Linked DNA regions of Homo sapiens: all the other regions are reported to be linked to region 1. Evidence: microRNA targets listed by miRTarBase, many of them from high-throughput screens and not tested one by one. Region 1 holds a microRNA gene; each other region holds the end of a gene's coding sequence.
Evidence for each region. Region 1 holds the annotated microRNA hsa-miR-769-5p (UGAGACCUCUGGGUUCUGAGCU, at 2,182-2,203, opposite strand). A microRNA usually pairs through its seed, bases 2 to 8, with sites in the 3' UTR of a target mRNA and lowers its output. Matches are read on the target gene's strand: a 7mer-m8 pairs with bases 2 to 8, a 7mer-A1 pairs with bases 2 to 7 and ends in A, and an 8mer does both.

Region 2: miRTarBase lists TCEA3 as a target of hsa-miR-769-5p. The part of its 3' UTR that is shown has no 7-base or 8-base seed match.
Region 3: miRTarBase lists NBPF15 as a target of hsa-miR-769-5p. Seed matches in the 3' UTR shown: 7mer-A1 at 1,671-1,677.
Region 4: miRTarBase lists APOC3 as a target of hsa-miR-769-5p. The part of its 3' UTR that is shown has no 7-base or 8-base seed match.
Region 5: miRTarBase lists CXCL5 as a target of hsa-miR-769-5p. Seed matches in the 3' UTR shown: 7mer-m8 at 420-426.
Region 6: miRTarBase lists SH3RF2 as a target of hsa-miR-769-5p. The part of its 3' UTR that is shown has no 7-base or 8-base seed match.
Region 7: the mRNA of MCCC2 is a reported target of hsa-miR-769-5p. Seed matches in the 3' UTR shown: 7mer-A1 at 2,499-2,505.

Annotation. Positions count from the first base shown.
Region 1 is chr19:46,017,098-46,021,163 of GRCh38, reverse strand. MIR769 (microRNA 769) reads right to left here and starts at 2,232; the gene lies at 2,115-2,232. CCDC61 (coiled-coil domain containing 61) reads right to left here. Exons shown (of 14, transcript NM_001267723.2): 12 at 3,860-3,917; 13 at 3,014-3,086; 14 at 2,548-2,874. The coding sequence ends at 2,777. It overlaps PGLYRP1 (peptidoglycan recognition protein 1), which reads left to right. Exons shown (of 3, transcript NM_005091.3): 2 at 1,517-1,638; 3 at 1,745-2,011. The coding sequence ends at 1,926.
Region 2 is chr1:23,377,872-23,381,937 of GRCh38, forward strand. It overlaps TCEA3 (transcription elongation factor A3), which reads right to left. Exons shown (of 11, transcript NM_003196.3): 11 at 3,038-3,603. The coding sequence ends at 3,595. Among named protein-coding and RNA genes, the nearest start is that of ZNF436, 10 kb to the left of the region's middle. RefSeq lists an enhancer at 314-383.
Region 3 is chr1:144,419,233-144,423,298 of GRCh38, reverse strand. NBPF15 (NBPF member 15) reads left to right here. Exons shown (of 22, transcript NM_001385408.1): 22 at 43-1,909. The coding sequence ends at 286. TRN-GTT3-1 (tRNA-Asn (anticodon GTT) 3-1) reads right to left here and starts at 4,032; the gene lies at 3,959-4,032. RefSeq lists a silencer at 3,924-3,983.
Region 4 is chr11:116,832,651-116,836,716 of GRCh38, forward strand. It overlaps APOC3 (apolipoprotein C3), which reads left to right. Exons shown (of 4, transcript NM_000040.3): 4 at 114-422. The coding sequence ends at 234. APOA1 (apolipoprotein A1) reads right to left here. Exons shown (of 4, transcript NM_000039.3): 4 at 3,101-3,761. The coding sequence ends at 3,158. It also overlaps APOA1-AS. Among named protein-coding and RNA genes, the nearest start is that of APOA1, 2.9 kb to the right of the region's middle.
Region 5 is chr4:73,993,931-73,997,996 of GRCh38, reverse strand. It overlaps CXCL5 (C-X-C motif chemokine ligand 5), which reads left to right. Exons shown (of 4, transcript NM_002994.5): 4 at 342-2,355. The coding sequence ends at 360. Among named protein-coding and RNA genes, the nearest start is that of CXCL5, 2.7 kb to the left of the region's middle.
Region 6 is chr5:146,062,375-146,066,440 of GRCh38, forward strand. SH3RF2 (SH3 domain containing ring finger 2) reads left to right here. Exons shown (of 10, transcript NM_152550.4): 10 at 52-918. The coding sequence ends at 327. All of the region lies in intron 1 of LOC107986458 (a long non-coding RNA gene), which reads right to left. Among named protein-coding and RNA genes, the nearest start is that of PLAC8L1, 41 kb to the right of the region's middle.
Region 7 is chr5:71,656,080-71,660,145 of GRCh38, reverse strand. It overlaps MCCC2 (methylcrotonyl-CoA carboxylase subunit 2), which reads right to left. Exons shown (of 17, transcript NM_022132.5): 17 at 1,440-3,403. The coding sequence ends at 3,286. Among named protein-coding and RNA genes, the nearest start is that of CARTPT, 61 kb to the left of the region's middle.

The DNA of each region.
Region 1 (4,066 bases):
TAGGATTCCGAATCTGGTTCTAACGTTCTGAATCCCCTTTCCATGTCACGTCACCTTCTCTCTCTGAGCCTCGTTTCTTCACCTGTAAATGGGGCTTCTGACTGTACCCGCTTGGCGATGGTGGCTGAGGTTTCAATGAGATGCATTCATGCAACAAATGACCAGGGAGAACCAACCACCCCCGACCCCAGCACCATCATGCCAGGCTCCGGGAATATGGCAGGGCCATAACCAGCCAGTCCCAGCAGCCAGCATCACCAGCAGGGCCATAACCAGCCAGTCCCAGCAGCCAGCATCACTGGGGCCAGATTCTGGGAGCTGGCTTCCTAAGCAGCAGATTCGGGACTCAAGATTCGGAAGTTCCGACATTCTGTGCGTCATTAATGACACTGTGAGCGCGGGGGCTGAGTTGGCACATACTGCAGCTCCAAGGCACTGATCTTCTAGTTCATTCCCATTTGCCAAGTCAGACACGCTCAATCAGATGTGCTGAATGAATCAGCCTTAAGGATCTGCTGCCAGGCTTGGGAACCTCAAAGAGGCAGGTGCTGGGGCTCCAGGGTCGGTATCTGGTTACGACCCCAACTTTGAGTCTGTGATCCTGTCCCCCAGTGGACCCCGAGGGCAGGAAGCAAGCTGGGGCAAAGGCAGAGTTCTGAGAGGCAGGGGGCTCTGAGTAGCTTGTACAAATTATGTCGCTTTCTGAGTCTCTGCTCTCTCTGCTTAAGATGAGGATGATAAGAGTCCCTGCCTTGGCTGGGCACGGTGACTCATGCTTGTAATCCCAGCACTTTGGGAGGCCAAAGGCGGGCAGATCACCTGAGGTCGGGAGTTCGAGACCAGCCTGGCCAACATGGTGAAACCCCATCTCTACTAATAATACAAAAATTAGCCGGGTGTGGTGGCTCATGCTTGTAATCCCAGGTACTCAGGAGGCTGAGGCACGAGAATCACTTGAACCCAGGAGGCAGAGGTTGCGGTGAGCTGAGATCACGCCACTGCACTCCAGCCTGAGCAACAAGAGTGAAACCCCGTCTTAAAAAAAAAAAAAAAAAAAAGTCTCTGCCTCAGAGGGCTGTCCTGCAAGGATTCAGTAAAACAGGACTTCCACAAATCCTCTAGGGAGGCAGGAGAGAGCAACGCACAAGATCACATGGGTGGGGACCATGGAGGCCTGGTTAAAAACCCCAGCTGTGCCCCAGACAGGCTGTGTGACCCCGGGGCAGGTGATTCTACCGCTCTGATTCTGTCTATATAAAACGGGGGTGATAGTGACTCACAGGGTTGCTGTGAGGATGGAAAAAGGTGTATGCAGAGCTGTGCTTGGCACATGGCAGGGGCCCAATAAATGACCACAGTCATTGTTACTATCGTGGGAAATTAACGGGTGAGAAGGATGCTGGGGAAGTTGTGTGCACCACGGCAGTAACGGAGGCAGGGTGAGTGGAGGAAGGAGGAGGAGTCCTCCTCGGGAAACCCTCCCTCACTCATCAAGCCCCCCCACCTCCCCATGCAGCTTCCTGATTGGAGAAGACGGGCTCGTATACGAGGGCCGTGGCTGGAACTTCACGGGTGCCCACTCAGGTCACTTATGGAACCCCATGTCCATTGGCATCAGCTTCATGGGCAACTACATGGGTGAGTGACTGTCCAGCCAGTTGGGATGGGGGCTGACACGGGGCCCTACGCTATCACTTCCCCTTCGGGGAAGCCCCTGCCTGACTCCTACCTCTGCCTCCTCCAGATCGGGTGCCCACACCCCAGGCCATCCGGGCAGCCCAGGGTCTACTGGCCTGCGGTGTGGCTCAGGGAGCCCTGAGGTCCAACTATGTGCTCAAAGGACACCGGGATGTGCAGCGTACACTCTCTCCAGGCAACCAGCTCTACCACCTCATCCAGAATTGGCCACACTACCGCTCCCCCTGAGGCCCTGCTGATCCGCACCCCATTCCTCCCCTCCCATGGCCAAAAACCCCACTGTCTCCTTCTCCAATAAAGATGTAGCTCAAAATGTGTTCCTCAGCAGGTCCCACCACACACCTCCCCTCCTTCTCTCCCTCCCACAAGACCAAAGCCCTCCCACCCCTTCCCCTCCCAGCACTCTCCTCACTGGTGCTTGGAACCCAGAGGCCCCGGCCCTGAACCAAGACCCCGGAGATCCCAGCTCGAGAGCAACATCACAGCTCAGAACCCAGAGGTCTCAGGTCAGAGCCCAGGAATCAGCACCAAGGCGGCCGGGATGTCACCAACAGTGGGTCCTGGGGGTCCTCCTGGGCAGTGAACCACGCTGCAAGACACCTCCTTCCCACCACACAGCCAAAGGCATCCTGCGCAGAAACTTTGCTTGGACTCCTTTAGGGACGGGCTGCTCACTACTCCTCCCAGGTCTGCCCTTGCACTGTTTAGAGAGTGTACAAGCTTTTCCTAGGCCTGAGTCCCAATCTGCCTCCGAGGCACAGACACACAGGTCCCAATTATACCCCCCAATTTCTCTTCCTCCACATTTCTCCCCACTCCACCCTCACCCTTTAGTCATAAGCTGAGGGGTCCCCAGGGCAAATATGTTTATTTACAAAATGCACACATCCTCCCTCCCAGCATGCACTGCCTGGGGAGAGGGCAGGGTCAGGGCCTCACACACCTGAGACCCCAGGGGCAGCAGGAGGGACGGGGCCAGGGCAGGGACTGGGCAGGGCTGGAGGCCACCCTGGCCCCACCCCCCACACCATACCCAGCAAGTGGGTGGGGGATGGAGGGGTAGTACCCCTTCTCCACGTTATGACCGCATGTCCAGTCGGTTCATGTACTCCTGCAAGGCCTTCAGGCGTGCGTCTATTTCGGCCATGTCAGCCGCCTGGTGCTCCGAGCTGTACTCTGTGAGAGCAGGTGTGGGTATGGGGGCTGTGAGGGGCCTGAAGCCCCAGGGAGTTCCTGGGCCCAATATACCACTGCCCGCACTACCATTCCAACGGGTCCTGGGGCTGGGAGAGGGGATGTGGAGTCCCAGGCTCACCTTTGATGGGGACCCAGCCCCCGGAGTTGGCCAGAGATTTCTGATGGTGGCTGCGTTCCACGGGGGGAGACTTCTGGTGATGGGGAAGGTAGGAAAGGGGGTCACCCACCGTCCCTCTATTTCTGTCCCCCTAAATCCCACTGGAAATCCTGAGCCTAAGGACCTTGGGGAAAAATAAGGCCTGACACCTACTGGCCATTCATTATCTGCAAAATAACCTCCTAATGTCCTCACAGAGCCCTCACCTCACATGTGAGGTGATGCCATTACCAACCCTGGTTAACTGATAAACAAAAACTAAGGTACAGAGAGGCTAAAGAACTGCCTTGAACCATACAGCTGGGAAGAGGAGGAGACAGGTTTCAAGACCTGACAGTCAGAAGCCAAAGCCCTAAAGAGCATCACGTGCCCCTCATTATTCCTTCTCCAATCTAATGCTCTCAAAACGTGCTGTTCCCAGGCCAGGTGCGCTGGCCCAGCCTGTAACTCCAGCGCTGTAGGAGGCTGAGGATGGCTTGAGGCCAGGAGTTCCAGACCAGCCTGGGCAACATAAAGAGACAATACCACCCCCTTATCCTGTCTCAACCCCACCCTGCCCCCCCAAAAAAGCCTAGTCCCAGCTACTCCATAGGCCGAGGTGGGAGGGTCTCTTGAGTCCAGGAGTTGAAAGCTGCCGTGAGCTACAATTGCCCCACTGCACCCCAGCCTGAAAGAGCGAGACGCACTCTTAAAAAAGCCCTATTGCCAAAGGCATTCAGAGTCGCCTCTGCACCTGATCCCCAGGAAGGAATCACAGGAAATGGGGGCAGCTGTGTTCCAGTGGTTTATGTTGCCCCTTCTACTCACCATATTGGACCCACTCCAGGGCGTTGGGCTGGGAGGCTTCCCACGGCGGCGGTGACCCCTGAGAAAAAGGAGTAACCAAGGACCAGTGGTGGGGAGGCTCTGGTACTTCCCACCTCCCCGACCTTTGTGGTTTCAAGGCCCCCAGGCTCCATCACCCAATTTCCCTGCAAAAGACTGTTTCTAGTCTCCCCAGAAACCCTTTGGAGG
Region 2 (4,066 bases), not on the chromosome of region 1:
TCTCTACTAAAAATACAAAAATACAAAAAAAAAAAAAAATTAACCAGGCGTGGTGGCAGGTGCCTGTAATCTCAACTACCCAGGAGGCTGAGGCAGGAGAATTGCTTGAACCCGGGAGGTGGAGGTTACAGTGAGCCGAGATCACACCGCTGTACTCCAGCCTGGGCGACAGTGCAAGACTCTGTCTCAAAAAAAAAAACCTCACTCAAGGCCAGGCGTGGTGGTTCACACCTGTAATCCTAGCACTTTGGGAGGCTGAGACGGGCGGATCACCTGAGGTCAGGAGTTTGAGACCAGCCTGGCCAACATGGTGAAACCCCATCTCTATTAAAAGCACAAAAATTAGCCGGGTGTGGTGGTTCCAGTACTGGGGTTCTAGTACTTGGGAGGCTGAGGCAGGAGAATGTCTTGAACCCGGGAGGTGGAGGTTGCAGTGAGCCGAGATTGCGCCAGCCTGGGCGACAGAGCAAGACTCTGTCTCAAAACAAAACCAAACAAAACAAAAAACTCACCCGAAAGTAACCTTTATTGGCCTTATTAAATTGACAGTGGTTGCTTTTTGTTCTGCTTTTGGTTTCTAGACATTTGGATGGAGGATTACATAATACAGAGAAAAATCTGGACATCTAAGGCCTTCCTACTCAAAGTGTGGTCTGTGGACCAGCTGCATTGGGGTTAGAAATGAAAAATCAGCTGGGTGCGGTGGCTCATGCCTATAATCCCAGCGCTTTGGGAGGCTGAGGCAGGAGGATTGCTTGAGCCCAGGAGTTTGAGACCAGCCTCGACTACATAGGGAGACCCCATCTCTATAAAAAATAAAAAATTAGCCAGGCGTGGTGGTGCATGCCTATAGTCTCAGCTACTCCAGCAGCTGAGGTGGAAGGATCGCCTGAGCCTAGAAGGTCAAGTCTGCAGTGAGCCATGATGGCATTACTGCACTCCAGTCTGGGCAACAGAGTGAGACCCTGTCTTAAAAAAAAAAAAAAAGAAAAAGAAAAAAAGAAAGAAAGAATTGAACAATCTCAAGGCCCACCCCAGACCCATTGAATTGGAATCTGCATTTCAGCACAATGCCCAGTGAATTCTCACCTATATTAAAGTTTAAGAAACATCTGGGTTTCTCAGCAACATCCCCCTGCACGTCTGTGGATAATGTTGGTCCCTCAGATGTATGTGGCATTTATCGCATCCCGTCTGGTGTGGAAATCTGTGCCTATGGTTTCTTTCCCTGCCAGGCTGTGACTTCCTGGAAGGTAAGGGCTGAGCGCTGTGTATAGCTCTGGATCTCTTATAGCACAATGACAGGAAGCAGAAGACCTGGGTTTCTGTCCTGGCTCTGCCATTTATGAGCTCTTTGTGTTGTATCATCTGTGAGAGGATTTTCGATCTTTCCAAGAAAGGGATTCACCCCAAATCTAACTGTTTAAAAGTCAGAGACAGGCCAGGCGCGGTGGCTCACGCCTGCAATCCCAGCATTTTGGGAGGCCAAGGTGGGTGGATCACCTGAGATCAGGAGTTCGAGACCAGCCTGGCCGACATGGTGAAACCCCATTTCTACTAAAAATACAAAAAAAATTAGCCGGGTGTGGTGGTGGGCACCTGTAATCCCAGCTACTCAGGAGGCTGAGGCAGGAGAATCTCTTGAACTCAGGAGGTGGAGGTTGCAGTGAGCCAAAATCGTGCCATTTCACTCCACCCTGGGCAACAAGAGTGAAACTCTGTCTCAGAAAAAAAAAAAAAAAGTCAAAGATGGGGCCGGGCACAGTGGCTTATGCTTGTAATCCCAGCACTTTGGGAGGCCAAAGTGGGCGGATCATTTGAGGTCAGGAATTCAAGACTAGCCTGGCCAACATGGTGAAACCCTGTCTCTAATAAAAATACAAAAACTAGCCAGGTGGTAGTTGTGCGTGCCTGTAATCCCAGCTACTCAAGAGGCTGAGGCAGGAGGATCACTTGAGCCTGGGAGGCAGAGGTTGCGGTGAGCCAAGATTGCACCGCTGCACTCCAGTCTGGGTGACAGAGAGAGACCCTGTCTCAAAAATAAATAAATAAATAAAAATAAATAAAAGTCAAAGAAGGTGGAAGACTCCTGTACCTAGTTTATTTCCGGGCTTCATCTACAGGAGAAGGCACTTATGGATGGAAGGAAGAAGACAGTAACCAATTCTAGAGTAAATGATATCCAGGGTATATGAGGAACTTGGGTTATAGTTGCCCCAACAGCTTCCCCAAGGCTTTTCTAGAAGTTTCCAGCTTTGCTGAAAGTTCCTGTCAGCATCAAAAGCAAGCCGAGGCCAGGTGCAGTGGCTCACACCTATAATCCCAGCACTCTGGGAGGCCGAGGAGGGTGGATCACTTGAGCCCAGGAATTTGAGACTAGCCTGGCCAACAGGGCGAAAACCCGTCTCTACTAAAAATACAAAAAATTAGCCGGGTTTGGTGGCTTATGCCTGTAGTCCCAGCTACTTAGGAGGCTGAGGCAGGAGAATTGCTTGAACCTGGGAGGTGGAAATTGCAGTGAGCCAAGATCACACCACTGCATTCCAGCCTCTAAAAAAACAAAACAAAACAAAACAAACAAACAAAAAAAGCAAGCCAATAATTATCATGGGAGAAGCACGGCAAGGTCTCTGTGCTCTGCAGATGTGTTCTGAAGCTCAGGTCACAGATGGAGCTGTGAGGGACACATTGCTAGGGCCTGGGCAGGTTCTGAGGCTCAGGACTTTCAAAGGGCCATGGAAGTCAGAGTGCTGCTGTAATCTTCAGAAAGCCCACTCAAGAAAGCCCACTCAGAAAGCCCAGCTCAAGAGGATCTGTTCCCTGCCTAGAGGGATATGATCTGGAGTCCTCAAAGGCCCCCACAGCCAGCTGTGAACAGGGAATAGCAGAGAGTTTGGGAAGAGATGAGGAAAGAGTAGGGAAGAAATATTTCTATTAGGCCACTGCAAAAGTAACTGCAAAAACCACAATTACTTTTGCAGCAACCTAATACGTAGTATGGAAGTAATATCTGCTGAAGCCAAATGGTGTATCAACAGTTCTGCACGTGTGACTCGGAGGTGGGGGTGGGGTAAGGTTTGTGTTGATCTGGCATTTTTCAATTTGGAAAAGGCTGGGAGATCCAGATGGGAGAGAAGGAACTCAAAGCAAACGTCTGCCAGCCCACTGTCAAAGATATGACACCTCAGGTCTAAGGCGCTGCAGTTTCTTTATTTTTTCTTTTTATAGAGATGGGGTCTTGCTGTGTTGCCTGGGCTGGACTCAAACTTCTGGGGTTAAGCGATTCTCCCACCTCAGCCTCCCAGAGTTTGCAGATTACAGCCATAAACCACCGTGCCCAGCCCTCTGCAGTTTCTAAAAGAGGTTCATCAATACAAATTCTCAGCATCATTCTCCAATTAGGCTCCCCCATTAACCAATTGTTTCTAATGACCGATTATTAATTTGCAAGAGAATTCTTCCTCTAACTCATACCATCCCACTCAGACAGAGTTCAGTATTTTCCTTCACTTTAATTTTTATTGCTTCTCCAGTTCAGATAATTCAGCGCTTCCTCTTTCTTCTTCCTCACCTTGTTCATGGCTGGCTGTTCCATCAGCAGAACTACAAAACCAGAAAGGCAACAAAATTTGAAAGGTTTCTCGGCATCCTCCAAGGAGGCTGTGGGGGAATATGAAAAAGAAGGTGGTGTCTGGAGCCACACAGACCAGAGTCCAAAGCCCAGCTCTGCCATTATTAGCTGTGTGATCTTGAACAAATCACTCACCTGTAAAATGAGCTCATAAAGCTTGTGAATGTGAGAATGATATCAGGTAATAAATGAATGGCAATTCGGTGCCAGGAATGTGCTGAGCTCTCAATTTATGGTCAAGAACATCACTGGGATGGCTACTAATCACTTGGTTAGACTTTTGGTCTCCCACATGGCAACGGAGACCAACTGAAAATGTGTTCAGAAGTCTGTAGTTGTTACCTCTAGTGGATCCTGTCCCTCCAACTAGTAAGAGTCAAGGAAGAGGAGCTGGATTTAAAGCATTCAGAATGTCCTTTCTCTAACAGTAACAAA
Region 3 (4,066 bases), not on the chromosome of region 1:
GATTTTCCCTGGCTGCTTCTTTAGTTTTGTCTCCTTTTCCAGGCTCTACGGCGTGCTGATGGAAGTGGAAGAGCCTGAAGTCTTACAGGACTCACTGGATAGATGTTATTCGACTCCGTCAATGTACTTTGAACAACCTGACTCATTCCAGCACTACAGAAGTGTGTTTTACTCATTTGAGGAAGAGCATATCAGCTTCGCCCTTTACGTGGACAATAGGTTTTTTACTTTGACGGTGACAAGTCTCCACCTGGTGTTCCAGATGGGAGTCATATTCCCACAATAAGCAGCTCTTACTAAGCCGAGAGATGTCATTCCTGCAGGCAGGACCTATAGGCACGAGAAGATTTGAATGAAAGTACAGTTCCATTTGGAAGCCCAGACATAGGATGGGTCAGTGAGCATGGCTCTATTCCTATTCTCAAACCATGCCATTGGCAACCTGTGCTCAATCTGAAGACAATGGACCCATGTTAGGTGTGACACGTTCACATAACTGTGCAGAACATGCCGGGAGTGATCAGTCAGACATTTTAATTTGAACCACGTATCTCTGGGTAGCTACAAAATTCCTCAGGGATTTCATTTTGCAGGCATGTCTCTGAGCTTCTATACCTGCTCAAGGTCATTGTCATCTTTGTGTTTAGCTCATCCAAAGGTGTTACCCTGGTTTCAATGAACCTAACCTCATTCTTTGTGTCTTCAGTGTTGGCTTGTTTTAGCTGATCCATCTGTAACACAGGAGGGATCCTTGGCTGAGGATTGTATTTCAGAACCACCAACTGCTCTTGACAATTGTTAACCCGCTAGGCTCCTTTGGTTAGAGAAGCCACAGTCCTTCAGCCTCCAATTGGTGTCAGTACTTAGGAAGACCACAGCTAGATGGACAAACAGCATTGGGAGGCCTTAGCCCTGCTCCTCTCAATTCCATCCTGTAGAGAACAGGAGTCAGGAGCCGCTGGCAGGAGACAGCATGTCACCCAGGACTCTGCCGGTGCAGAATATGAACAATGCCATGTTCTTGCAGAAAACACTTAGCCTGAGTTTCATAGGAGGTAATCACCAGACAACTGCAGAATGTAGAACACTGAGCAGGACAACTGACCTGTCTCCTTCACATAGTCCATATCACCACAAATCACACAACAAAAAGGAGAAGAGATATTTTGGGTTCAAAAAAAGTAAAAAGATAATGTAGCTGCATTTCTTTAGTTATTTTGAACCCCAAATATTTCCTCATCTTTTTGTTGTTGTCATGGATGGTGGTGACATGGACTTGTTTATAGAGGACAGGTCAGCTGTCTGGCTCAATGATCTACATTCTGAAGTTGTCTGAAAATGTCTTCATGATTAAATTCAGCCTAAACATTTTGCCGGGAACACTGCAGAGACAATGCTGTGAGTTTCCAACCTCAGCCCATCTGCGGGCAGAGAAGGTCTAGTTTGTCCATCACCATTATGATATCAGGACTGGTTACTTGGTTAAGGAGGGGTCTAGGAGATCTGTCCCTTTTAGAGACACCTTACTTATAATGAAGTACTTGGGAAAGCGGTTTTCAAGAGTATAAATATCCTGTATTCTAATGATCATCCTCTAAACATTTTATCATTTATTAATCCTCCCTGCCTGTGTCTATTATTATATTCATATCTCTACACTGCAAATTTTGGGTCTCAATTTTTACTGTGCCTTTGTTTTTACTAGTGTCTGCTGTTGCAAAAAGAAGAAAACATTCTCTGCCTGAGTTTTAATTTTTGTCCAAAGTTAATTTTAATCTATACAATTAAAACCTTTTGCCTATCACTCTGGACTTCTGGATTGTTTTTTACATTCAGTGTTATAATATTTGATTATGCTGATTGGTTTTGGTGGGTACTGATGCGAATTAATAAAAACATTTCATTTCCATGTTTATTTTCTAATCTCTTCCACATTGTAGGCTATGTTTACCATACGTAGCAGAATGTATTTACATTTCTTGGTTCTAGTCATTTGTATTCTTCGTGAGTGTGAGTGTGTGTGTGTCTGTGTGTCTGCGTGTGTGTCTGTGTGTGCCTTTGGCATTTAGGAAGGGTTGTATAGCTCATGTTAAATATTGCACTAAAAATGTTTTTGATGGTTTTCCTCCCTTTGAACTAGACACACTTCTAATATTTGGTTTATAGTTTTAAATTATAACTTTCAGCATCAAATATTTCCATACAACAGTCAATTACATGATGTGTTTTCTTTTTCCTACCTCCTTTACCTGCCCCTTCTCATAATAGTATTTGAACCTAAACATATACCGTTGACATTCTGTGATTATCATCTTGCCCCTACCTTGGTTTTGGTTTTTGGTGCAGTTCCAGGCTCTTGGTGTCTTTGTTTGGGACACCAAGAGCCTGGTACTGCACGGCACCAGCTGGTAAGAATTAGGCTTTTTTGGCCGGGCGCGGTGGCTTATGCCTGTAATCCCAGCACTTTGCGAGGCCAAGGCGGGCGGATCACGAGGTCAGGAAATCGAGACCATCCTGGCTAACACGGTAAAACCCCATCTCTACTAAAAATAAAAAAAATTAGCCGGGCGTGGTGGCGGGCGCCTGTAGTCCCAGCTACTCGGGAGGCTGAGGCAGGAGAATGGCCTGAACCCGGGAGGCGGAGCTTGCAGTGAGCCGAGATCGCGCCACTGCACTCCAGCCTGGGGGACAGAGAGAGACTCCGTCTCAAAAAAAAAAAAAAAAGGCTTTTTTTTTCCCTAAGGGTTAACAACAAACCAGCCCTTTGGAAAGACTTGCTTCACCACTGTTACCAACCAACGGCCTGATGCTTTCCCTCAGTTTTGTGATTTTGACAAAACAAGCAAGCAGCATTCCCTCCTGATAAGAGACCACCGACCTAGGAATGATTCTGGCCAGACTAGAGAGGATGCACAGTGAGGGTTTTCATGTCCTCTGCTTCAGCTTTTGATGTCAGAGGGCCACAAACTCCACTCTCAGATGATTGCTAATGCCACCATTTTATGAACATGGACCCCATGGAGAGGCACGAAGCTCAATTGCACTTCTGCACATTTTTCCTCCTATAAATATTGCTATTGGAATATTATTTGGTACGGCTCCCGTGAAAGATACATTTGCAGAATGTACTCAAATTAGAAGCATCATGTAAAGCCTATAATGTAGCGATAGTGCATCAACTTCCCTACACTATAGAAATATCTGCGGTGTAGACATTTCCACAATGACCAGATATGTGTACAACAAAGGTGGCTGCAGCATTCTTTGTAATCCTAAAACAATGAAACCTACCTCATCTCAAAAACTTTATTTTTTTATTTTTATTTTTTTTTTGAGATGGAGTCTCGCTCTGTTGCCCAGGCGGGAGTGTAGTGGTGCAGCCTCCACTGGTGCAGCCTCCACTGCAGCCTCCACCTCCCAGGTTCAAATGATTCTCCTGCCTCAGAATCCCAAGTACCTGGGATTACAGGCACATGCCACCATGCCTGGCTAACAAAAACATTTTGAAAAGGGTTAAATAAATCATGCACAAACTGAGGAAAAATACTCTTCAAAAATGATGGAGAGGATCACTATGATGATGAATGATTCCACTGGTCACATTATTGATAGAGCAATCAGTAAATCCAGGCACATCCTCGGGATATTACTGACCTCCTATTATTAACATATGAAAAAATGGAGGCATGTAAATTACTCGTTTAAGCGTATAACGGACTGAATTAGAATTTTATCACACCAGAAGTGGGTTCCTAGGTCTCTGTTTCAGGATTCCTGAGTTACACACATATAAACCCAGGATTTCAGGAGATACCCGGTTAAGAATCCGGTCGGGGAGGTGGTCTGGCCCTTGACATGGATAAGTCACAAATTAGTGGCTTAGGACTCCAGGAAGATAAAATCTTCCCCATTTATCTAGTGATTGACAATGCATGAATACTTTAAAAGCTCAAACAAGCGTCCCTGGGTGGGCTCGAACCACCAACCTTTCGGTTAACAGCCGAATGCGCTAACCGATTGCGCCACAGAGACAGGTACTGTCAGTTCTACTGGGCGCTATAGGAAG
Region 4 (4,066 bases), not on the chromosome of region 1:
AGGGTGGTGTGGTCCTGACTGGTGTCGTCCAGTGGGGACATGGGTGTGGGTCCCATGGTTGCCTACAGAGGAGTTCTCATGCCCTGCTCTGTTGCTTCCCCTGACTGATTTAGGGGCTGGGTGACCGATGGCTTCAGTTCCCTGAAAGACTACTGGAGCACCGTTAAGGACAAGTTCTCTGAGTTCTGGGATTTGGACCCTGAGGTCAGACCAACTTCAGCCGTGGCTGCCTGAGACCTCAATACCCCAAGTCCACCTGCCTATCCATCCTGCGAGCTCCTTGGGTCCTGCAATCTCCAGGGCTGCCCCTGTAGGTTGCTTAAAAGGGACAGTATTCTCAGTGCTCTCCTACCCCACCTCATGCCTGGCCCCCCTCCAGGCATGCTGGCCTCCCAATAAAGCTGGACAAGAAGCTGCTATGAGTGGGCCGTCGCAAGTGTGCCATCTGTGTCTGGGCATGGGAAAGGGCCGAGGCTGTTCTGTGGGTGGGCACTGGACAGACTCCAGGTCAGGCAGGCATGGAGGCCAGCGCTCTATCCACCTTCTGGTAGCTGGGCAGTCTCTGGGCCTCAGTTTCTTCATCTCTAAGGTAGGAATCACCCTCCGTACCCTGCCTTCCTTGACAGCTTTGTGCGGAAGGTCAAACAGGACAATAAGTTTGCTGATACTTTGATAAACTGTTAGGTGCTGCACAACATGACTTGAGTGTGTGCCCCATGCCAGCCACTATGCCTGGCACTTAAGTTGTCATCAGAGTTGAGACTGTGTGTGTTTACTCAAAACTGTGGAGCTGACCTCCCCTATCCAGGCCCCCTAGCCCTCTTAGGCGCACGTGAAGGGAGGAGGCCGGATGGGCTAGAGGTTGGAGTAAGATGCAACGAGGCACTATTCTTGGCTCCACCACTTGATATCAGCCTCAGTTTCTTACATGTAAAGTGGATACAACCGTACCCCCTCCACCGTAGGTTTGCCGTGAGATTGAAATGAGAGAGCGTTCGAACCGTTTGGCACAGCACCTGCACGTAAAGATGCTTGATCAATGTTGTCATGATTACAGTTGAGCTGACTGGGCCCTTGGGACCCGGACTGGAGTGGTGGGGGGCAGTGTCCTGGGACCAAAAAGAAGCACAAGGTCTCCCAATAGAGGCTGCTTCCTTTGTGTCCCCACCACCCGAAAGATGTCAGGTCAGAGAGCCCGAGAGCTGCAGATGGCTTGAGTAGGGCTCCACTCTTCAGATCAAAAAACTGTGGCCCGGAGAGGCGAAGGCACTTGGCCAGCATCACAGAGCCAGCACGTGGCAGGGCCAGACCTTGAGCCCAGGTCAGCTGCGTGTATTCTGCTCAGTTGGTGCAGAAAACAGTTTTGTCACTCCTATGTCAGGTGTTAGGGACTCCTTTACAGATCTCAGTGGCATCAGTACATCCAGCCCCACCTGGAGACTGCTTTCTCTCTGAAAATTCCCCAGGGCTTCTCTCTGGGCTGAGAGATCTCAGCACCCGTATCTAGAAAATGTTCCCACCCAGACCTGGCTGGATGACTGCTGTTGTAGCTCTGGAAGGTTAGGAACTAAAAAGCCCACTCCTTTACCTAGGGTAGCTAAGATACACTGGAGATGGGGACATGGGGATGGGGCCGATTATCCAGGGGCCTGCATGAGGGGGCAAAAGGCCCTGCAGAGAGAGGGTAGGGAAGGCACTGCCCAGATCTGTGAAGCCATGTGCGTGCACGCGGGGACATTCAGACATGAGTGCAAGGAGGGACCGTGAGCAGGGAGGTCATGTGAGAATACACAGGCATGCCTGCACACCCATGTGAACTTGAGTGCCAGGCCACACACTCTTTTTTTTTTTTTTTTTTTTTTAGCTGGAGTCTTGCTCCGTCGCCCAGGCTGGAGTGCAGTGGCATGATTTCGGCTCACTGTGACCTCTGCCTCCCAGGTTCAAGCGATTCTCCTGCCTCAGCCTTCCTAGTAGCTGGGATTACGGGTGCAAGCCACCATGCCCAGCTGATTTTTTTTGTATTTTTAGTAGAGACAGGGTTTCACCATATTGGCCAGGCTGGTCTCAAACTCCTGGCCTGAAGTGATACGCCCACCTCAGCCTCCCAAAGTGCTGGGATTACAGGCTTGAGCCACCGCACCCGACCCGCGCACTCTTTTCAATAATCATGGATGGCCAGGGGTGCAGGGTCTAAAAAGCGCGGCCTAGCCCATCCTGCTGTTCACTGGGCAAGCGACGTCACAGGTCCAGGCTTCAGTGTCCTCATCCATGCTCTGCGTCTGATGGCAATCTAGCCAGGATGTGGGGAAGGGAGGATGCAGTGAGAGCACAGATATGAGAGCATCTTGGAAATAAAAATGTACCTGCAAGAGGTGGTGGTGAATTTTCTTACTCAGGCCAGCTTCTGCCAGGGCTGGCAGAAAGAGGGGGTGGCATGGCATGGAGCCGCAGGGGGTGGAGGACTGGCTTCCACTGCTGTGCCTGAGGAAGCCGCGGCTGTTTCTGGGCGGGATGGGAGTAGTGGGAGGGGGATACTGGCCTTGTGAGAAGAAAAGGGAAGTGTCTGTTTGAGAGGTTTTTGAATTAGTAAAGGAGGACAGGCGCAAACTCCAAGCGCTTCACTTGCACCCGGGACCAAACCCCAATCCCAGTGGCTGGCTCCCTGAGGCCGCCCCGCTCCGTCCCGCCCCGCTGACAGCGGCTGGGCTGGAGAAGGCTCTATACGGACACACCTCTGGGGACGGGGAACCCACTGCTCCCAGCTAAAGCAACCCTGTTTCCTGGCCCGCCTCAGACAGGGCTGCAGGCCTTGTTTGAGCCCCTTTCAGGGCACCTGGCCTTGGATTGTCTGTGGCTTTGCCTGGTCCGCTGTGACTTCCTTTCTACTTGAGCCTTGCTAAGGCAGACTCTACTCCCTCACTCGTAAGCAGCCAGGCGTCCAGCAGGTCCTCCAACGTCGATCTTGGCCCTAAGACGTCCAGTCTGGGCACGGAGTTGTTGAGATCCGGCAGGAAGTCCCTGCTCCAGGGCCAAAGGCCCCACCCGGGCTCCCCCGGATGTCCCCGCACCCCCCTCTATTCTCCCAAAAGAAAGAAGCTGCTTCCCACTTTGGAAACGTTTATTCTGAGCACCGGGAAGGGGGGCGGCGGCGGGCGCCTCACTGGGTGTTGAGCTTCTTAGTGTACTCCTCGAGAGCGCTCAGGAAGCTGACCTTGAAGCTCTCCAGCACGGGCAGCAGGCCTTGGCGGAGGTCCTCGAGCGCGGGCTTGGCCTTCTCGCTGAGCGTGCTCAGATGCTCGGTGGCCTTGGCGTGGTACTCGGCCAGTCTGGCGCCGCCGTTCTCCTTGAGAGCCTCAAGGCGCGCGGCCAAGCGCTGGCGCAGCTCGTCGCTGTAGGGGGCCAGATGCGTGCGCAGCGCGTCCACATGGGCGCGCGCGCGGTCGCGCATCTCCTCGCCCAGTGGGCTCAGCTTCTCTTGCAGCTCGTGCAGCTTCTGGCGCGCGCCCTCTTGGAGCTCTGCGCGCAGCGGCTCCACCTTCTGGCGGTAGAGCTCCATCTCCTCCTGCCACTTCTTCTGGAAGTCGTCCAGGTAGGGCTGCACCTTGGCCTTCACCTCCTCCAGATCCTTGCTCATCTCCTGCCTCAGGCCCTCTGTCTCCTTTTCCAGGTTATCCCAGAACTCCTGGGTCACAGGGCCGAGCTGTTCGCGCAGCTTGCTGAAGGTGGAGGTCACGCTGTCCCAGTTGTCAAGGAGCTTTAGGCTGGAGGGTGAGACAGAAGGGTTGAGGGCTGGCCTCCCAGCGCCCCAGCCTATCAGGGGTGAGCCCTGGGTGACACCTGTCCGCGGAGGTGCAGTGGCCTAGCATTTCCAGTACACTCTCAACCAACACCCCTGCCCCGCCAGGCCATGCCCCGTTGTGCAGCTGGACCGAGGCACAGAGAGGAGCTAAAAAGGAGACAGAGCTGGGACTAGTGCCCAGTTACGTTGGTCTCCAAAGTGGGCCCTTGAAGGACCTCGCTTCTATGCCTCCAGCGCATTCTCCTCTCCGAAGACAGCCCACAGTCT
Region 5 (4,066 bases), not on the chromosome of region 1:
ATCTTTGTGGTTTCTAAATCTGATCTAGGGAGACCATAGACTTCACAAGGTCTTTATTCTCTGTACGATTTAAGTAACACTTTTCATGTTTAGAATTAAAAGGTTGTTGAATTGGGAAAGTTTTTCTGGATTGTCCTGGGAAAATATACCAATCTTACATGTAATTACTTGAGCAATTACACACAGCTTGTCACTAAGTTATGTTTTTTGTTTACCCATTGCTTTTATTGATTTTTGTATTCTCCTTTTTTACCAAACATCATAAACGCTGAGTTTTGACAAGGGTGGAGTAGAAAGGAGTGTGAAAAATGGTTAAACTAATATAACATTTTTCTCAACAGTGGAAACAAGGAAAACTGATTAAGAGAAATGAGCACGCATGGAAAAGTTTCCCAGTCTTCAGCAGAGAAGTTTTCTGGAGGTCTCTGAACCCAGGGAAGACAAGAAGGAAAGATTTTGTTGTTGTTTGTTTATTTGTTTTTCCAGTAGTTAGCTTTCTTCCTGGATTCCTCACTTTGAAGAGTGTGAGGAAAACCTATGTTTGCCGCTTAAGCTTTCAGCTCAGCTAATGAAGTGTTTAGCATAGTACCTCTGCTATTTGCTGTTATTTTATCTGCTATGCTATTGAAGTTTTGGCAATTGACTATAGTGTGAGCCAGGAATCACTGGCTGTTAATCTTTCAAAGTGTCTTGAATTGTAGGTGACTATTATATTTCCAAGAAATATTCCTTAAGATATTAACTGAGAAGGCTGTGGATTTAATGTGGAAATGATGTTTCATAAGAATTCTGTTGATGGAAATACACTGTTATCTTCACTTTTATAAGAAATAGGAAATATTTTAATGTTTCTTGGGGAATATGTTAGAGAATTTCCTTACTCTTGATTGTGGGATACTATTTAATTATTTCACTTTAGAAAGCTGAGTGTTTCACACCTTATCTATGTAGAATATATTTCCTTATTCAGAATTTCTAAAAGTTTAAGTTCTATGAGGGCTAATATCTTATCTTCCTATAATTTTAGACATTCTTTATCTTTTTAGTATGGCAAACTGCCATCATTTACTTTTAAACTTTGATTTTATATGCTATTTATTAAGTATTTTATTAGGAGTACCATAATTCTGGTAGCTAAATATATATTTTAGATAGATGAAGAAGCTAGAAAACAGGCAAATTCCTGACTGCTAGTTTATATAGAAATGTATTCTTTTAGTTTTTAAAGTAAAGGCAAACTTAACAATGACTTGTACTCTGAAAGTTTTGGAAACGTATTCAAACAATTTGAATATAAATTTATCATTTAGTTATAAAAATATATAGCGACATCCTCGAGGCCCTAGCATTTCTCCTTGGATAGGGGACCAGAGAGAGCTTGGAATGTTAAAAACAAAACAAAACAAAAAAAAACAAGGAGAAGTTGTCCAAGGGATGTCAATTTTTTATCCCTCTGTATGGGTTAGATTTTCCAAAATCATAATTTGAAGAAGGCCAGCATTTATGGTAGAATATATAATTATATATAAGGTGGCCACGCTGGGGCAAGTTCCCTCCCCACTCACAGCTTTGGCCCCTTTCACAGAGTAGAACCTGGGTTAGAGGATTGCAGAAGACGAGCGGGAGCGGGGAGGGCAGGGAAGATGCCTGTCGGGTTTTTAGCACAGTTCATTTCACTGGGATTTTGAAGCATTTCTGTCTGAATGTAAAGCCTGTTCTAGTCCTGGTGGGACACACTGGGGTTGGGGGTGGGGGAAGATGCGGTAATGAAACCGGTTAGTCAGTGTTGTCTTAATATCCTTGATAATGCTGTAAAGTTTATTTTTACAAATATTTCTGTTTAAGCTATTTCACCTTTGTTTGGAAATCCTTCCCTTTTAAAGAGAAAATGTGACACTTGTGAAAAGGCTTGTAGGAAAGCTCCTCCCTTTTTTTCTTTAAACCTTTAAATGACAAACCTAGGTAATTAATGGTTGTGAATTTCTATTTTTGCTTTGTTTTTAATGAACATTTGTCTTTCAGAATAGGATTCTGTGATAATATTTAAATGGCAAAAACAAAACATAATTTTGTGCAATTAACAAAGCTACTGCAAGAAAAATAAAACATTTCTTGGTAAAAACGTATGTATTTATATATTATATATTTATATATAATATATATTATATATTTAGCATTGCTGAGCTTTTTAGATGCCTATTGTGTATCTTTTAAAGGTTTTGACCATTTTGTTATGAGTAATTACATATATATTACATTCACTATATTAAAATTGTACTTTTTTACTATGTGTCTCATTGGTTCATAGTCTTTATTTTGTCCTTTGAATAAACATTAAAAGATTTCTAAACTTCACTCATATTGTTTCTCCTTCCTATACTGTTACAATACATTTTACTTATCTTTAATTCTATGTAATTTAAAACACTAACTCTGCTCCTCTCTGACTGGCAGAGAAGGCCCTCATTCCCCAATACCATTTCCTTGGCTCAACCTTTCTCCAAGTTCAGTTCCCTTCTAGTTATCCCTTCACAGCACCAATGGCTTCTGGGGTCTTTAGAAAACACAAATATTTCCCTATCTAAATTCTTCCCTATCTAAATTGTTTCCTAAACATAAAATAAAGGTTTCTAAGCATGACAGATGACCTTCTTTCTGTCTCATCCCATTCCTGATCAGCACTTTAACTTCCCTTGTCCCTCAAATTCACTATAGTCAGGTGTTCAGTTCCCTAACTGGGCATGTTCTTTCCTAGGCCCATGACTTTGGATTTGCTAGGGCCACTACCTGCATATAAGAAGAGGCTTATTCATCCTTAAGAACTCAGCTCAAGTAATACCAGCTCCTTGGCAGAGCTCATGGCTTCCGATTTGATATTCTCATGACATCTCATTATCTGAATTACAACAAAAAAACTGCATTGCTCTTATTTGTTTATAGGTTTCTTCATCCACTCTAGCTCTCCCAGAACATTAACCATATTATATCTACCGCTGCATCCCCAATGTAGCATTAATGCATGAATTAATGAATTAACAAGTTATCCTGATCTTCAGGCTGTCAGATACTGTTCTAAATTCAATAACCTGGTTCATGGTAGATGTCATTTTTTTTTTTTTTGAGACCGAGTCTTGCTCTGTTGCCCAGGCTGGACTCCAATGACATGACCTCAGCTCACTGCAACCTCTGCCTCCCAGTTTCAAGCGACTCTCCCGCCTCAGCCTCCCGAGTACCTGGGAGTACAGGCACCTACCAGCATGCCCAGCTAGTTTTTGTATTTTTGTAGAGATGGGATTTCACCATGTTGGCCAGGGTGGTCTTGAAATCCTGATCTCAGGTCATCAGCCCGCCTCAGCCTCCAAAGTGTTGGGATTACAGGCATGAGCCACCCTGCTCGGTTTTAATTAAATTATAACTTGTTTACCCTCTTTTCTCCTTGTCTAGCAGTAGTCCAACAAGGAGTTTGGCATGCACAATCCTCTCAATCTATAATACCTCCCCTCACTTTTACCAGGGTAGCTACCATCCTTCCTTCTGGAATAGCTTGCCTTTTACTTTCTTGAGGAAACCTCTCCAACCCTTACTCCTACCTTTGAGGAGGACCCTTTTATACCCTCTCATAGCATTCTGTACTTTTCCTTCATGAAGTTTTCTCACCGAAGTTACTGTAGAGTTTATTGAGCCTGTGTGTTTATTGTCATCCGTTTAAGGTCTCTCTGTTCTAGCTTCATGTAAGCCTCATGAGGGCGGGGACAATGCTTATCAACTTCATCTCAGTTCCTAGGACAGTGCCTAGCACATACTAGGTATTCAAAAAGCAAGTGATTTTGGCTAAACAAGTCCCCTTGTCACTCTAAAATTAAAAGAGCAATTTCATTTAAATACATATTCTTAGGTTATACTTAACATTTCCCTATCTAAATGACAAATGAGGTTCTGTCTCATCCCAATCTTGATCAGTACTTCAACTTCCCTTGTCCCTCAAATTTACTATATAAATACCTAAGAATAGGTATTTATATGAAATTGCTCTTTTATGAAACACAAGAAAAGGAAAGAAAGAAGA
Region 6 (4,066 bases), not on the chromosome of region 1:
ATAGACATCTCCCACCTCACCTGTGTCCATTTCCTCTCCTTTCTCTTGCAGCAAGTCAAAACCGTGAGATTTCAGAATTACAGCCCTCCTCCCACCAAACATTACACCTCCCATCCCACCTCCGGAAAGCCTGAACAGCCAGCCACCCTCAAGGCGTCCCAGCCTGAAGCAGCGTCCTTGGGCCCAGAGATGACCGTCCTATTTGCCCACCGAAGTGGCTGCCACTCCGGACAGCAGACAGACCTCCGGAGAAAGTCAGCTCTTGGCAAGGCCACAACCCTGGTGTCCACTGCCTCAGGCACGCAGACCGTGTTTCCCAGCAAATGAACCTACGGGTGGCTTTTCCTAGACCCCAAAGAGGTGAATTGCATTTAAATACAGTCTGCCTCCACTGAGGGCATCCTGCCATTCTTTGGGGACTTGAGCATGGGTCCTTGTTCTTCCTATTTCACCTCCAGGAAAGCAAAAGTGGGAGCAGAAATTCCTGCCCTGGGTGGGAGGATAGATGGCGTGGCCTTCCAAACATACAAACATAATGATTTGATGCCACAAAGCTCGCTTACTCAGACCAAGGAGTGAAAAATTGTCGTGCCCACTTTATGCCCCAGCATGGAGTATGTGGCCTCTTGTCATCCCCGTGTTACTGTGTAGAATTTCTATGGTGTCCTAAAGGGGGCTGCAGCAGGGGTGTGACAACGGTGGGATTGTTGGCGTTGCTTCTTTGACCTTACAATATCCTCAACAAGCATTAGAACAACTTCTGCCATCTTCTGGGGCCTGTACACTGGCCACTAGTAGCTGCCATATCTTTTTCCCTCTGTAAAGTCATAATCCTGGCTGCAAAGGGAGGATTTCTGCGCGGGGTGTGAGGTGGATACTTTGAACATTCTGAGAACCCAATAAAACTAGAAGGAGCCAGCTTCCTGAGTATGCTCCACTTAAGAAGGTCAGAGAGATCACTGAGTACCAAATATCAAAGGATTATCATACTTTAAGCTTCTCGATCCATTTTCCCACATATAATCCTATGCAATAGATAAGCAGAAAGCATGTGGCTGTGGATAGGGCCATGTATGGCATTATGGACAATTAATTCATCCTGGCTCTACAGTCTGACTTCAAGAAAACACAGCGTGCTTACAAACAATCTTATATGGGGTTAGGGTTTAGATATATAGTCTGACTTCAAGAAAGCACAACGTGGGCCAGGTGCAGTGGCTCATGCCTATAATCCTGGCACTTTGGTAGGCCGAGGTGGGCAGACCACTTGAGGTCAGGAGTTTGAGACCAGCCTGGCCAACATGATCAAACCCCATCTCTACTAAAAATACAAAAATTAGCCAGGCATGATGGCGCACACCTGTAATCCCAGCTACTCTTGAGGCCGAGGCATGAAAATAGCTTGAACCCGGGAGGCGGAGATTACAGTGAACCAAGATTGCACCACTGCACTCCAGCCTGGGTGACAGAGTGAGATTCTGTCTAAAAAAAGAAAAAAGAAAAAAAGAAAGCACAACATGCTAAAAAACAACTTTATATGGGGTTGGGGTTAGGATCTATATTTGGATATATATTGTTTGCATTGCAATATTCCTGACTTTCCCTGCTTTCTTCTCACTTGGGGCAGATGAGCTATTTCACTCACAAGGCAACAACACCAGTGCGAACATGGCAGCCCGAGGCTGGGGTGGGAGTGCTTCCTAGGGGAAAGCTGCTATAAAAAGGGTAGGACAAAGAAGGCTGGAGGAGAAAACAGGGGAGAGGAGAAGGAGAAAGAGGAGGGGTTAAAGAAAATGTGGAGGAAAGAAAGTAGGCATAAGAGTAAGAGTGAAAGAGGATTGAGGGAAAGCACAGGAAGAGGCTAAAGGAGACAAGGGGTGGGGCAACCTTACATTCCCTGACAGGGTGAGGAAAGAAGGACAGAGCCTGCGATGAAGAATGGGGCAAAATTAGATGACCCCACTAAGATGGAACTGACGTGAGCAGGACCAGCCAGGGAGAGCCTTGTAATCAGGGTAGAGGAGGCATCCCAGGAAGCCAAGGCAATGCTGTGAGACAACCCATTAATTCTCATTAAACTTAATTGTTGTGATTTAACATTTATTGCATGCCCATCAATGTGGGCACTTTAACGCAGAAATAACATTTGCTACTAAGGCTGGGTGCCATAGAAAGAAAGAAAAAGAAAGGAAGGAGGGAAGGAAGGAAGGGGGAGAGAGAGAGAGAGAGAGAGAGAGAGAGGGAGAGAGAGAGAGGAGAGAGAGAGAGAAAGAAAGAGAGAGAGAGAAAGAGAAAGAAAGAAAGAAAGAAAGAAAGAAAGAAAGAAAGAAAGAAAGAAAGAAAGAAAGAAAGAAAGGAAGGAAGGAAGGAAGGAAGGAAGGAAGGAAGGAAGGAAGGAAGGAAAGGAAGGAAGGAAGGAAGGAAGGAAGGAAGGAAAGAAAGAAAGAAAGAAAGAAAGAAAGAAAGAAAGAAAGAAAGAAAGAAAGAAAGAGAAAGAAAAAGAAAAAGATGCAGGGAGGGAGGGAGGAAGGGGCATGTCTAATTAGACCTTTCCCCTAGATAGTTCTTGAAAGTCCTGGGATTCAAAACATGTATCTTTTACACACCCACTCACACACTCGGCAAACAGAATTGTCCACAGACTTTTTCCAGACCTTAATAAAACAAAACAAAACCATACTCCTCCCATAAAATACTGCCATTGTGTCAGACCTTTGGGGCTGGTAGAGCCAACATGACAGCACGTTGTTCTAGCTATCTCAATCACGTTTGGGTCCACATCTCACAAACTTTGGGTCAATATCTGATGTTTGTGGACCCAAACAAACATGAGATATTGACCCATTAGGTCCACAAAATCAACATGCCCAAATCCATGCCTCATTGAACTAAATATAATAATCCAGATGGAGAAATGAGATAAAGTCCCAAGGACAGGGAGGCATTGTGTGATTTGTCAAAATATAAGTACCTATACCTCATCTTTACCCAAAAAGCACTCTCAATGAGTTTAGCAATGTTTAGCAGTCTACTCTACACTCAGAGTGGCACAGATATGGCATGACTGGCCGACCAAATATTTAGTCTATCCCTCAGTGGCAATGTATCCAGTTAATTTTTAAGTTTTGTGGCTGACAAGCAGGGTGCTTAGATGGAATGGAGATGTCCATGCCTTCCAAATGAAATGAAATATTCTTCTCCCACCATCTATTTATTATCTCTTTGGGATAACCTCTCTGAGAGATGCAAACAACTCCAAGACTTGCCACCTCCACTCCCTCCAGTCTCTTCACCCATGTGCAGCATCAAACTCACCCTCTCCCAAAGAAAATCCCATCTTTGTGGAGTTTTAAGAGGGTTTGAAAGGGACAAAGGATGTTTTTTCCAAGTAAAAGTTGGCTTCACTGGCAGCTTTAACTCATTCATTCCACCAACATGCTTTGTAAATTTATTGTTTTATTTTTTGTAGAGATGAAGTCTCACTGTGTTGCCCAGGCTAGCCTCAAACTCCTCGGCTTGGCCTCCTCATGCCTTGGCATCCCAAGTGCTGGGATTACAGGCGTGAGCCACCACACCCAGCCCCAACATGTTTTTAATATTTACTGTGTGCTAGACACAGCAAGGAAGATGATAAACACATCCCCTCATGTAATTTCCACCATATCCCTATAAGGCAGGTAGATTGTCCCCATTTCAGAGCCAAGGAAACTGAAGCTTGAAAGTTAACCACAGATGATGGCAGAGCAAGGACACAGTCTCAAACTGTCTGACTTCAGAGCCCAACTTGGGACTTGCTCCATGAACCAAAAACCCATCCTTGACTTCAGGATGCTGACTCTGGACTGCCAGGAGGCAGCAGAGTGCATTTTTGGCTGCAAATGCGAAAGAGCCTAGAACGCTCGGCTGCGCACAAATACAGTTCAGGTCTTCATTTACCACTTTCTGGCCATGGGATGTCAGGCCAGTTACTTAATCTCTCAGAGCCTCGTTTTCTTACATAGGAATAATACAGTGTAGTGCCAACCTCAATGGGCTATTATGAGGATTATCTGAGATAATGATACAA
Region 7 (4,066 bases), not on the chromosome of region 1:
GGGGCATAGAAATTTCATTCATCCCTAAGAAAAACTTAGTCCTCAGGATCCTGATTCCAGATACAAGAGAATTTGAAGCACATAAAATAAAAGCACTATTTATTTATTTACCTATTTATTTATTTATTAAGTAGAGACAGGGTCTTGCTATGTTGCCCAGGCTGTTCTCCAACCACTGGGCTCAAGCAATCCTCCTGCCTCACCCTCCTAAAGTGCTGGGATTACAGGTGTTAAGCCAGGGTGCCCCGCTGAAACAAACTATTTTTAAGCGTTTAGTGGAAAGGCACAAAACGTTTTGTCGAAAATGATTAAAATCTATGTCATCATTAAATATTAATTGTACTTAATTGTAACATTTTAAGGGAAATGTTATGAATGACACTAGGCTATGATAACCTAGTTCATCTTCTTGCCATTTTTCCATATATGAAACTTCAGAACCAATCATTAGAAGATCACTAAGAAAAAAAAAATCGCCAAGACTCTTAGTGGAGATTTAATCTTCCATAAAACCAAACTCAATGCATTTTAGAACTAATGTGGCCTCTCAAAAATAATCTTATTAATGTATCATTCCAAAACCTGCTTTGATTTATCCCTGTGAAGGAAACATATGGCCTCTCTCTGGAGAGACATACACATAAGCATGTTGGCAAATGATGGTGTCACTCAAACACTCAATAGTGCCTTCTGCTGGTGCAGAAGTGTTTTTTTTTTTTTAACAAATTCGATTTGAAAATACTTTTCTTATAAACTGAAAAATAGAAGTAATCTTGTCTTTTTCATTCTTTAAGTACCAACAGGGGCAAATTTAGAGACTAACTTGTATATTTCTTCAAATTCCAAGTAGCTCATATTATCCTTGCTGGAATTCATATTTATGATAGTCAAAATGTTTAAAAAGTATTACCTATTTTGGTAAGACAATTATAAATGTTTATTGTTGGGTAAAATATACAAAATAGAGCAAGGCGTAGTGGTGCAAGCTTGTAGTCCCAGCTACTTGGGAGGCTGAAGCAGGAGGATTGCTTGAGCCTAGGAGTTCGAGTCCAGCCTGGGCAACATAGCAAGACCCTGCCTCTAGAAAAATAAGTTTTAAAAAATCCAATTCACTTAAATGTGGTTTTATTGATGGACAGTTTCTTCCCAGAAAAGCAAAAGCAGTCCTAAAATATCCATGAATCCTTGACTTGTTAATGGTTCCTACCAAAGGAATATTACCTAGTCTTTATATAGAAAATCATTTTGACATAGATGTGCATTTTCATTAAAATTTTAATATTACTATTTTAATATACTTAATGTATTGCTTCTGAAAATGTAACCTACCACTGAATTTGATCATCTATCTATATTCTCCCCACAAAAACTAAATTGACTTCCTGGTACACATTGAACATCACACACAAATGTTTAAAATACTAAATATCACACACAAATGTTTGAAATATTGACTTTATTAGGAAAACATTTGATAGTTCTATTCGGTCATATAATCAATCACCTAATTTTAAAACTATGTGGCCAGAGGACATCAATTACAATATGGATTTTTCATTCATTCAACGAATATTTGAGCACCTACAAGTGCCAGACATTGGAGGTACAGGGTAAACAGGAGGATCCTTGCTCTCACGGAGCTTACATTCTAGCAGGAGGACAATATTAATGTTTATAGGAAAATGATGAGTTTATGACAAAGGAAGTAGATAGTGTTTTACAAGAGCATAGAGTAGGGAAGCTAATCCAGCACAGGGAGGTCACAGAGACATCCCTAAGGAAGTGGAGTTTAAACTGAGAGAAGCAAGTGCTTAAACTGAAGGATGTGTTGAAGAAGAAGGGAGAGTAGAACAATTTGGGCAGAGGGAACCTTATAGACCCTAAGGTGGGAAGGTTCAAAGAACTGAAAGAGAGCTAGAACAGCTGGAGCCGTTCTCCGGTGTAAAGAGGAGTCAAAGAGATAAGATTAAAGATGTGAAGATTAAGATCTTGGTGGCATTCAGGGATTGGCACTTCTACAAGAAATCACTGAAGGGAGTAATCTGACATTACTTTTCACTTCAGGATGGCCATTCTAACTCCAGGGGGTAGACTGGACTAGGTAAGACTGGAGGCAGGTAGACCTCTTCTAAGGCCTGCGATAGTGAAAGACAAAAATAAGTGGGGAAATTCAGGGGATAGTGAAAATCAGTAGGACTTAATGAGCAAGCCAGAGGTTCCTCCACAACAACCAGTACAGATGTCCAGTAGACCTACTGGATATGCAGGCCTGCAGCTCAGGGGAGAGCTGGGTTAAGAACCGTCAAGGCAGTAATCATCTGCATTTAGATGGCGAGTGAAGCCATGACAGGGGCTGAAATGGCCCAGCAAGAATAAATCAAACCATGAGAAACACATACATTTAAGAATAAGGAGATGTGGTCAGGCGCGGTGGCTCACACCTGTAATCCCAGCACTTTGGGAGGCCGAGGCGGGTGGATCACTTGAGGTCAGTAGTTTGAGACCAGCCTGGGCAACCTAGTGAAATCCCGTCTCTGCTAAAAATACAGAACTTAGCTGGGTGTGGTGGTGCGTGCCTATAGTCCCAGCTGCTTGGGAGGCTGAGGCACAAGAATCGCTTGAACCCGGGAGGTGGAAGCTGCAGTGAGCCGAGATCACACCACCGCACTCCAGCCTGGGCAACAGAGAAACACCCTGTCTCAAAAAAAAAATAATAATAAGGAGATGTCATGGGCTCGGGGGAGGGGGAAATGGGGAGCGCTGTTGTTTGAATGGTATAGTTTCAGTTTGGGACTGAGAACAAATTCTGGAGATGAATGGTGGTGATGGCTGCACAGCAGTGTGAGGGCACTTTATGCCACTGAAGTAACAGATGCCTTTCAAAAATAAGCCCGCTAAAATATCACCAAGCATAACCAGCAAAACAATCATTTCAGTGAAAATACAACTTTATATTAATCATCTCAATAATACAGATTACAGAACTGAGTTTACAGATTACAGAACTTTTCATACTTTGTGGGTCAGAAAGGATAACCGTAAATTACTGTCTCCGCTTTATGGGTGGTAAAACTGAGCCACAGAGAAATTTCTCTAAGAAAATTTAAAAGGAATTGATGTTCATTAAATAAATATCCTCACTGATTTTTTTAAGGTAGAAAAGTACAATGCACAGTGTTAAAAAAATTACTGTAACAGCCTCATGTTCGAGAAGTCTAAAATTTTAAGGCTACTACATGTGTTAATTTTCAGTACATGTCCAACAGAAAACATCCTTTATTCCAGTTACATCCTGAAGATACCGAAGTCAGTCTTCTCTATTGGTGCGTTGAGGGCTGCACTAAAACTGAGACCCAAGACCAGTCTGGTGTCTGCTGGATCAATGATCCCATCATCCCATACCCTGACAAAAGAACAAAAAAAGAGTTATGAATTTACCACCAAACTACCATTTATACACTCTCCATGTGCAGAAATGCCAAGGAAGTTTTCCTTCAGGTAATATATGGATCTACTGATTAGCATCCATGTACCATAATCTCACAACAGAAACTACGTTCAAGACAGAGGGGGAAAACGTGGAAAAAAATGATATGACCTTCATCCCAGGCCACCACAGAATGTCATGTCAGGCTTAAGGCTTAAGGAACTACTTTTATAAGAGATCTCAAAGTAACCCCTAATTTGACAATACGTTTACTTATTTCAGGAAAAATTTTCCTATTCCTTTTCTTCCCACACAAATATATAAGCCAAGTTGGTGTATTCTGTCATTAATATGCAGAACCACATATACCCAGGTAATAACCTCAAACTTTACTGGAAAATGTATATTCCCCAACCCCCATCCAAACTCTTAAGAAACTATGAAAATTATTGAATAGGCTTCAGTACATTTTATCTTATTTATTATTATTATTATTTTTGAGATGGAGTCTCGCTCTGTCACCCAGGCTGGAGTGCAGTGCAGTGGCACGATCTCAGTTCACTGCAATCTCCGCCCTCTGGGTTCAAGCAATTCTCCTGCCTCAGCCTCCCTAGCAGCTGGTATTACAGGAGTGCGCTA